3 separate regions of the Homo sapiens genome follow, and all the other regions are linked to region 2. The links come from fine-mapping of genetic effects on gene expression. A gene starts in region 2. Each other region holds a variant in brackets. All regions are shown on one strand. Distances are from middle to middle. Region 1 has its middle 170 kb from the start of LINC02518. Region 2 holds the start of MARCKS (myristoylated alanine rich protein kinase C substrate). Region 3 has its middle 6.3 kb from the start of LINC02518.

Evidence for each region. PIP is the estimated chance that this variant, and not a neighbour inherited with it, causes the effect.
Region 1: its variant is the best candidate, but not a certain one, in a credible set for the expression of MARCKS in whole blood (TOPMed, PIP 0.63).
Region 3: its variant is the best candidate, but not a certain one, in a credible set for the expression of MARCKS in whole blood (TOPMed, PIP 0.69).

The regions. Positions count from the first base shown.
Region 1 is chr6:113,265,661-113,268,425 of GRCh38, forward strand. No RefSeq gene overlaps it. Among named protein-coding and RNA genes, the nearest start is that of LINC02518, 170 kb to the right of the region's middle. The variant C/T (reference allele first, on the strand shown) is at 1,393.
Region 2 is chr6:113,855,976-113,858,740 of GRCh38, forward strand. It overlaps MARCKS (myristoylated alanine rich protein kinase C substrate), which reads left to right and starts at 1,370. Exons shown (of 2, transcript NM_002356.7): 1 at 1,370-1,872. The coding sequence starts at 1,771. RefSeq lists enhancers at 125-184, 205-254, 525-1,070, 1,071-1,614, 1,402-1,451.
Region 3 is chr6:113,438,371-113,441,135 of GRCh38, forward strand. No RefSeq gene overlaps it. Among named protein-coding and RNA genes, the nearest start is that of LINC02518, 6.3 kb to the left of the region's middle. The variant G/A (reference allele first, on the strand shown) is at 1,741.

The DNA of each region.
Region 1 (2,765 bases), 590 kb before region 2:
AGGCAGGAGAATGGCGTGAACCTGGGAGGCGGAACTTGCAGTGAGCTGAGATTGCACCAGTGCACTCCAGCCTGGGCCACTGAGCAAGACTCTGTCAAAAAAACAAAAAGGGTGCATTCTACTCCTAACTGCTGTTTGCAATTGGGTAAATAAAGTCATCAGTTGTTCATCTGTATGAAATCATAACTGAGCATTTTCAATTAACTGTGTGGAATGAATCACATATGAAGAATCAGAAATCATATTAATAGGCATATCAAAAGCGGTCAATACCTAAATTACAGCTACAAGCTCTGCTTTTTGAGCTGAAGTATAGGGCATCTGAAAAACTTTACATTTTGATCCAGAATAAGAAACTTTACCATTACTAGACCCATCTGTAAAACAATGAAAATGCTTAGCAGGCTGCAGGTTGTTCGCTGCAGGAATTGTAAAAGTAAACTGTTCACAGTCTTGCTCAGCTAAGGGGCTAGTAAAGAAACAGCCTTTTAAATCTATGACTATTAAAAGCCAATTTTTTGTAATTATAGCAGGAGGAGGCAATCTCGGCTGTAATGCTCCCATAGGTTGTAAAACTGAATTGTTGGCTCTTAAGTCAGTTAACATTCTCCATTTACCTGATTTTTTCTTAATTACAAAAACTGAAGAATTCCAAGGGGAAAATGTTGGAGCTATGTGCCCATTATCTAATTGTTCAGTAACTAATTCCTCTAAAGCCTCCAGTTTCTCTTTACTTAGTGGCCATTGTTCAATCCAAATTGGCTTATCTGTTAACCATTTTAAAGGTATAGGTTTTGGAGGCTTAAAAATGGCCACCATCAAAAATGATATCCTAAACCTTGGTGGGAACTTTGTCTTTCCTCTTGAAGCCGTTCTTTCAAACCTTGCAAATTTTTTCCTAGTACCATACCAGGGACATACCCCATTTCATGCATCATATGTTGATTTTGAAGGCTATATAATTGTTCCAGAATTAGAAGTTGTGCTCCCTATTGCTGTAATAAATCTCTCCCCTATAAATTTATAGGTACAGAAGTTATAAGTGGTTGAATAGTCCCAGGTTGTCCATCGGGCCCTTCACAATGCAAAATATAACCACTGTGATATACTTTGGGGGCGTTACCAACTCCAACTATGTTATATTGAGTGGGTTGAATTGGCCACGTTGATGGCCAGTGCTGTAGAGAAATGATTGAAATGTCTGCTCCTGTATTTACCAAGCCTTTAAATTTCTTTCCCTGAATAGTTACTTCACAGGTAGGACATTTATCAGTAATTTGATTTACCCAATAAGCTGCTTTGCCTTGTTTATTCATGCTTCCAAATCCTCCTGTTCATTTAATTTCACTTTTCCCCCTTTCCACATATGGCACAATCAGGAGCTGTGCTATG[C/T]GCTCTCCTGGCTCTGCTTTCCAGGGAACAAAAGTAGATATAACAATTTGAATTTCCATATTGTAATCTGAATCAATGACTCCTGTTTGTACTTGTACCCCTTTTAAATTTAAACTAGACCTTCCTAAAAGTAATTTTATCATCCCCACTGGCAAGTGTCCATGGACCGCTGTTGGGACCTTTTGCAGGGATTCCCCAGGCAGAAGGCTCACAGCTTTTGTGCAGCATAAATCTACTGTGGCACTACTGGCTGTGGTCGGGGACAAACCTTGTACAGGGGTGAGGGAATGGCCTGAGCCGAAAATGCCCCAGTTTGGAACAAGGCCAGGGATGGGCCCCTCATGGTGTATCCCAAATTTAAAAGGAAAAGGCTCAAATGTAGCTATAATATTTCCCTGTTGATCTGGAGGGTGTATTCTAACAGGGAACTGCCAAGCCTCTAAATCACCCTCTCATCTAGCTTGCTGAATTCCTGCCTGAATAGAATGCAGAGCAGTCACTCAAGGTGCTGCTCAAATAGTCACTGGGGCAAATACTTTTCACCCAGTGTCCTCTGGGAAAGAAAGATCTGGAGGGTCAGGCCACTCTTTTTCTTCAAAATAATAATGAGGGGGTGAAGAAGGGTAGGGATGAACCTCTCCCTCCTTTACCACTTTAGCTTTAGCTGCAAACAAACCTGCTCTATAACGTCTTCTGTTACTTTGTTATACTCCCCTTCCTCCACATGATCAGTGTGAAAAGGTTCCAAGGTGGAACGAACCAGAGCTCAAACTTGTCCCATTGTTACCCTGATGCTTCCAAACTCCCCTTGTTACTCGCCATGGGGATTGCTTTAAGAGTACTCAGGTGTCCTCCACCTTAGTTCCACATTCTCCAACGATTGCTCCAGCGACCCTTCAACCAGGGTTTGAGCCCCATGTTCAGCGCCACTTGCTGAGACTAGCTCAGTTATTGAGACCCTAACCCAGCGGTGATAGAGGAATTAAAGACACACACACAGAAATATAGAGTGTGGAGTGGGAAATCAGGGGTTTCACAGCATTCAAAGTTGAGAGCCTCAAACAGAGATTTACCCACATATTTATTGACAGTGAGCAAGTGATAAGCATTGTTTCTATAAATTATAGATTAACTAAAAGTATTCCTTATGAGAAACAAAGGGATGGGCTGAAATAAAGGGATGGGCTCTGGCTATTTATCTGCAGCAGGAGCATGTCCTTAAGGCACAGATTGCTCATGCTATTGTTTGTGGTTTAAGACCACCTTTAAGCAGTTTTCCACCCTGGGTGGGCCAGGTGTTCCTTGCCGTCATTCCGGTAAACCCACAACCTTCCAGTGTGGGCATCATGGCCATCACGAACATGTCACAGTGC
Region 2 (2,765 bases):
ACCTTCATAAGCGAAAGATTATTCCTTGCAAGATCACCAAATGTAAACGAGAAAAGGTGGTCTGATTTTGCCACGAGTGAAAACTTTGGGAAGAAAATGCTTATTAAGCTGTTTCCTTGGTTCCCCTCACCCCTCATACTTTAAGTCAGTGCCTTGTCTCTCACGCACAAAAAGCGTCTGGTACTTCGGTGGCAAGGAGTGCAGTGACAGATGGAGGTATCCTGTGTACCATTATAGAAGGTTTTCCTCTAACCCAAGTTAGACTTGGAGAGCTCAGGGATCTTGCTATCTCTCAACATACAGAACATTTCTCCTTAGAACTGCAATCCGGTTTAGAATGTCATCGTTGCTGCTGCCTCCCTTCCTTTCAGGAGCACATTCGCCTGCGTGCGCACTCACACACACGTTCAAAAAGAGTCCATTCGATTCTGGCAGTAGGCTGAAAACGATCCATATTGACGCGAATAACATCCCAACTGTAAATATGGATTCGTCTACTCGAGGCTGTGTCTCATTTCACCATAGAGGAAAATTATGTCATTTAAAACAGTGATAAAACGCGAAGAGTTTCGATCTTCTGTAAATGGCTCTCACTTTGAATTGTGGGGGAAAAAAATCACTAATTGGGAATAGCCAGAGAAGGGGGAATTTGTTGAGCGCCCAAGGCCAATCTCAAAATATTTTATTTCATGCCAATGTGGGAGAGGGAAGGGAGTGTGGCTTCGCTGTTTGCCGCTTTTGCATTTTCCACATCTGGCCTACAGACCTAATTCTAACTTGCGATCTCGCTTGATGAAATTCGATCTTCGTGGTTTAAATACCTTTCAATTTGGGACGATTTAACCATTGCAGCAGTTCAAAAAACAAACCCTGAGCATTATCTGTAAAACCAATATGGAAAAAAGAAAGAAAACATGCTGCAAACACACAAATCGCAACCATTGTCTTTAACACTCGCATACACACACATACACATAAACACACGGAAAGATGGGGGAGGGGAGCGAGTGGAGAGAGAGAGACACACGGATATAGACCGACGAGAGTCAATGCGAGTCAAGTTAACGCTTTCTCCGCCCCGATGCACAAGTACCCCCCTCCCGTGTTAATTAATTCCAAACAAAGCAAGCCAATCAAGAAATGCATTATTATTTTCAAGCAGAGAGAGACGAGTGCCATGTATTTTTTAATTGATTTATTTATTTGGAGGACATTAATTCTCGGTCTGAGGCTGATTTTCAAACCGTTTGCAAAGCGCGGCTCCATTGTTCGCCAGGCGCGCAGACCCCGCCCCCTGCTTTGTGTGCGGCGCGCGGATTGGCCGACGCGCGCGGGGGCCGCGTCAGCGCCCGCGAGCCCATTCATCTGTGCACTTGGGCGTTGGACCCCGCATCTTATTAGCAACCAGGGAGATTTCTCCATTTTCCTCTTGTCTACAGTGCGGCTACAAATCTGGGATTTTTTTATTACTTCTTTTTTTTTCGAACTACACTTGGGCTCCTTTTTTTGTGCTCGACTTTTCCACCCTTTTTCCCTCCCTCCTGTGCTGCTGCTTTTTGATCTCTTCGACTAAAATTTTTTTATCCGGAGTGTATTTAATCGGTTCTGTTCTGTCCTCTCCACCACCCCCACCCCCCTCCCTCCGGTGTGTGTGCCGCTGCCGCTGTTGCCGCCGCCGCTGCTGCTGCTGCTCGCCCCGTCGTTACACCAACCCGAGGCTCTTTGTTTCCCCTCTTGGATCTGTTGAGTTTCTTTGTTGAAGAAGCCAGCATGGGTGCCCAGTTCTCCAAGACCGCAGCGAAGGGAGAAGCCGCCGCGGAGAGGCCTGGGGAGGCGGCTGTGGCCTCGTCGCCTTCCAAAGCGAACGGACAGGTAAATTCTACCTGTGGTTGTGGTCATTTATTTCGTGTCTTTCTCTCCTTCCCTCCTGGTGGCTCCCAAGGCTCATTCGTGGAGAGGAGTGTGGCTGGATTCTAGTCTGAAAGTTGAATGGAAATGGATAGCCTAAATTGTGGATTTTTCATAGCCGGGGTCCCCCCACACCAAAGGAGTGGTTCCTTAGAATCCTGGAGAATTCTTGAGTAGACGGGAGGAAAGGAGTGATAAATCGTCTAAAATGGCGTGGTTTGGAGATTGGCAGAACGTGACTAGCTAGGTGCCCTCCTTCCCCCGCCCCCAGCCAGGTTTCATTTGTGTTTGGGGGCACAATGGTGTTTGGGTGTCTCTCGGGTTTGTTGTCGAAGCTGGATTGTCTTCGAGATTTCTGAACTGGTGGTGTGATTGTGTGTGGCGGGGGGGGGAGTCGGGAAAGGGGGGCGCAATGGGGATGGTGGTGGAGAAAGGCGAGGAGGGAAAGGCTGTCTTATTGTATGCCGCGGCGGCGTGCCCTGGGTTCTTGGAAAGGTGGCTGGCTGGGGCCAGACAGAGGGCTTCGGTACCTTTTGATGAGGCTTTCCCACTGTCCTAAATCTTTATTCGTAGCTGTCTGTGGAATTACACATCCATTTGATTTTTAAATGGTATCTGTGGGGTGGGAACACTCGGTGGGTCCTTTAAGAACCTTTCCAGATGGTCAAAAAGAGGCGGTTCGTGCCTTTCGGTCGGGATTGTTCTTGTGCGTGGCGCCTCGACCACCCGCGAGGGGCCGCCCGGCGCTGCCCGGACCCAGGCAGATAGCCACGATTGGGTGGACCCGAGAGGTCGGCCATGGGTGGCTGCTTCGCAAACACTGGGCACCCACCACGCCTCTTTTCCTAGAGAAGAGA
Region 3 (2,765 bases), 420 kb before region 2:
GGTTCTCTTCAGACCATGCCTTGAATATCCTTCTCTGCTCAAAATGCCACATTTTCTACAAAGTCTCCTCCGAGTCCTGAGATAGAGCAAGTAGCTATTTCTAGTGTTTCCATAGCACTATGTTCATCTCTCTGTCATAGTATTCATCATGATTTTCCTTCAATAATTTGGTTATGTTTTATTCCTCCAAAGATTCTCTGCATCCCTTGATGGCAGGGACCAAGGCTTTGCCCTATGGCCAGAATATATCAGAGCACATAACAGATTTTTTTTTGAATTAATGAATAGACTTCTTTCAATAAGTTATCTTTCTAATACACTTAGTGAACACCAACTAACTAACAGGCACTCTGCTCGATCCCAAGTTACACACTAGTGATCAGTATGGTCAGGTCCCTGCTTCCAGGATGCATAGAGTGTATCCTTATATGATACTTCATCAATGACAATATCCTTGTTCCCTCTCTTTCTCATTCCATTTTCTATTTTCCTACTACCTTTCTGTCTGTTTCCAGCTGTTCTTTTTTCCTTGATGCTTCCCTAAGCATGACATTGCACACATGGGCATTGCTTAGATTGCTTAGTGTCTCTAATAAAGAGATAGCTATAATGGCCAACAAGTTACCCCAGGCCCAGGTTTAGATTATGATCTTCATGTTGCCTGCAAAGCTATGGGTACATGAAAACCTATTCCCATTTCCCAGATATCACTTAGAGAAAAATGAAGGAAAAAATAAGTCCTCCCATGGCTGCATGACTTGAAATTTTTATCTTTTCTTATCTTCACTGTCCCAAGTGAGTCAAATGCTCAAAACTGTTATTGTCTTTTAAAATGTTGATTAAACTAGTAGTGTTAGTGAAGATGATATAACTACCTAGAAGATATATGCTCCATCACTGCAGGAAATTTGGTCTCTTTTTACCTTGATAGACTCACAGCTCCTAGAATATTGCTAGCACATAGCAATGCTCATTGAACATTTTAAAATGTGTTCCTTGATGCTATAATTTCTTTTCCATTCATGCTAGGTTTAAAGATTACCTGAACTATTTTCCATTAAAAATGGCTTATGTGGCTCAGTCAGGTCACTAAACCTAAGTCTTGGTTGTCTTTTCATAAAACAGGGACCTCATTAGTACCTCCCTTGCATGGGAATGTTTCGAGTATAAGAGAAAATGCATGCAAAGCATGTAGTCTAATGTCTTCCTAGACTACAAACTGAAGAAATGCATTGAGGCTGAATCCAGGGTCTATCTAATAATCTTTTATTCTCTGTACACATCGTTTAAAAAAAATGCTTATCTCTGGTTGTCCATTATACACCGAGTAGACTGGCTTTCTTTAAAGTTAGGCTCTTTGAAACACAGGATATATCAAATCAAAACTTATTAAGCACTTGTAATGTACCAGTTATTATGTTAGGTACTAGAAATACAAAGAAAAACTAAGATATATTCCTTTACCTAAAGAACTTTACTATCTCATAAGGAAAATAGACAACGTAATGGAAAATTACAGAACAAGATGTGAGGTTTACTAAGACTGAGACAGAAAAAAGGATCATTTAGGGGGAGCACCCGACCCAGCCTGGGAAAGAAGGAGATTAAGGGAGGTTTTCCAGAGGATGTTAGTTACAAAGAAGTCGGGGTTAGAGGAGCTGCTCTGAGTGGAAGGAGCAGGCTGAACAAAAGAACCAGGAGCAGAAATGACATGATCAATTAAGAGCATGCAGGTGACAC[G/A]TTTTGACTGGAGCACATAAAGAAAAACAAAATTATGTCAAGAACTAAAGCTGTGCGATCGTGAGCACAAGTCAGGTCTGCATGAAAGGGCTTTGTATGTCATGCTGTCGATTTTCAACTGTGTCTTTATGGCTAATGGAAAACCCATGAGTAATTTTAAGCAAGAGGGTATCATCACCAGCTTTGCACTCTAGAAAGATCACTGCAGTGAAAATGTAAGGATTTTACCTTACATTTTCTGGAAGGATACTAGCAGGGGTTCACAGCCTTTGGTATGCACAGCAATTACCTACAATTCTTTTTCACTAGGTCTGATTGGTTTCAAACATAGGGGATTTGGATGCAGAAAATCTGTGATTTATACTTTGAGAAACAGGAAGAATTAAAAACAAAAACAAACAACAACAAACTATTGCAGTAATCTAGGAGTTGAGTTATGAGGGTGTCCACAAAGGCAATGGTAGTGAGATTGAAGAAAGTAGCTGAACTTGAAAAATATTAACAAGAACCTGGAGATTAACTAGATGTGAAGAAAGGAAGAGGGGAGACAGAGGCCTAGACAACTGGATAGACTTTCCATGAGATGAGAAATCACTGGAAATAGCAGGGCTGGAAAGAAAGCTGATTATTTCTTTCTTCATATATCGAAGAGGAGGTACTTTGAAATATCCCTTTGGAGCTTTACTGTGTTGGGGTTTGAGAGGTCCAATAAACATCACCCCTCTTTCCTACCTGAGTTTGGGACTAATTGAGAGGAATCTAGCATTTGGAAAAGCTATCACCTTTGTTACCCTAAAAGCTAGATCTGAAGATGTGGCTTGGGTACTACAGTCCAGAATTGGGCAGATCTACGCACCTAGTCACAAAGGACAGAGCAGGGTGTGTGCTTCCTGCAGACAGCTGGATTCCAAAAACAAGATGCTGGTCTGGGAAGGTCCAGTTCCTTTCTCTAAACCCACCAAGCAGAAAGACCATATCTTCACCCTAGAAAAGTGGTGTGTAAAGGAGATTAGAAAGACCGGAAG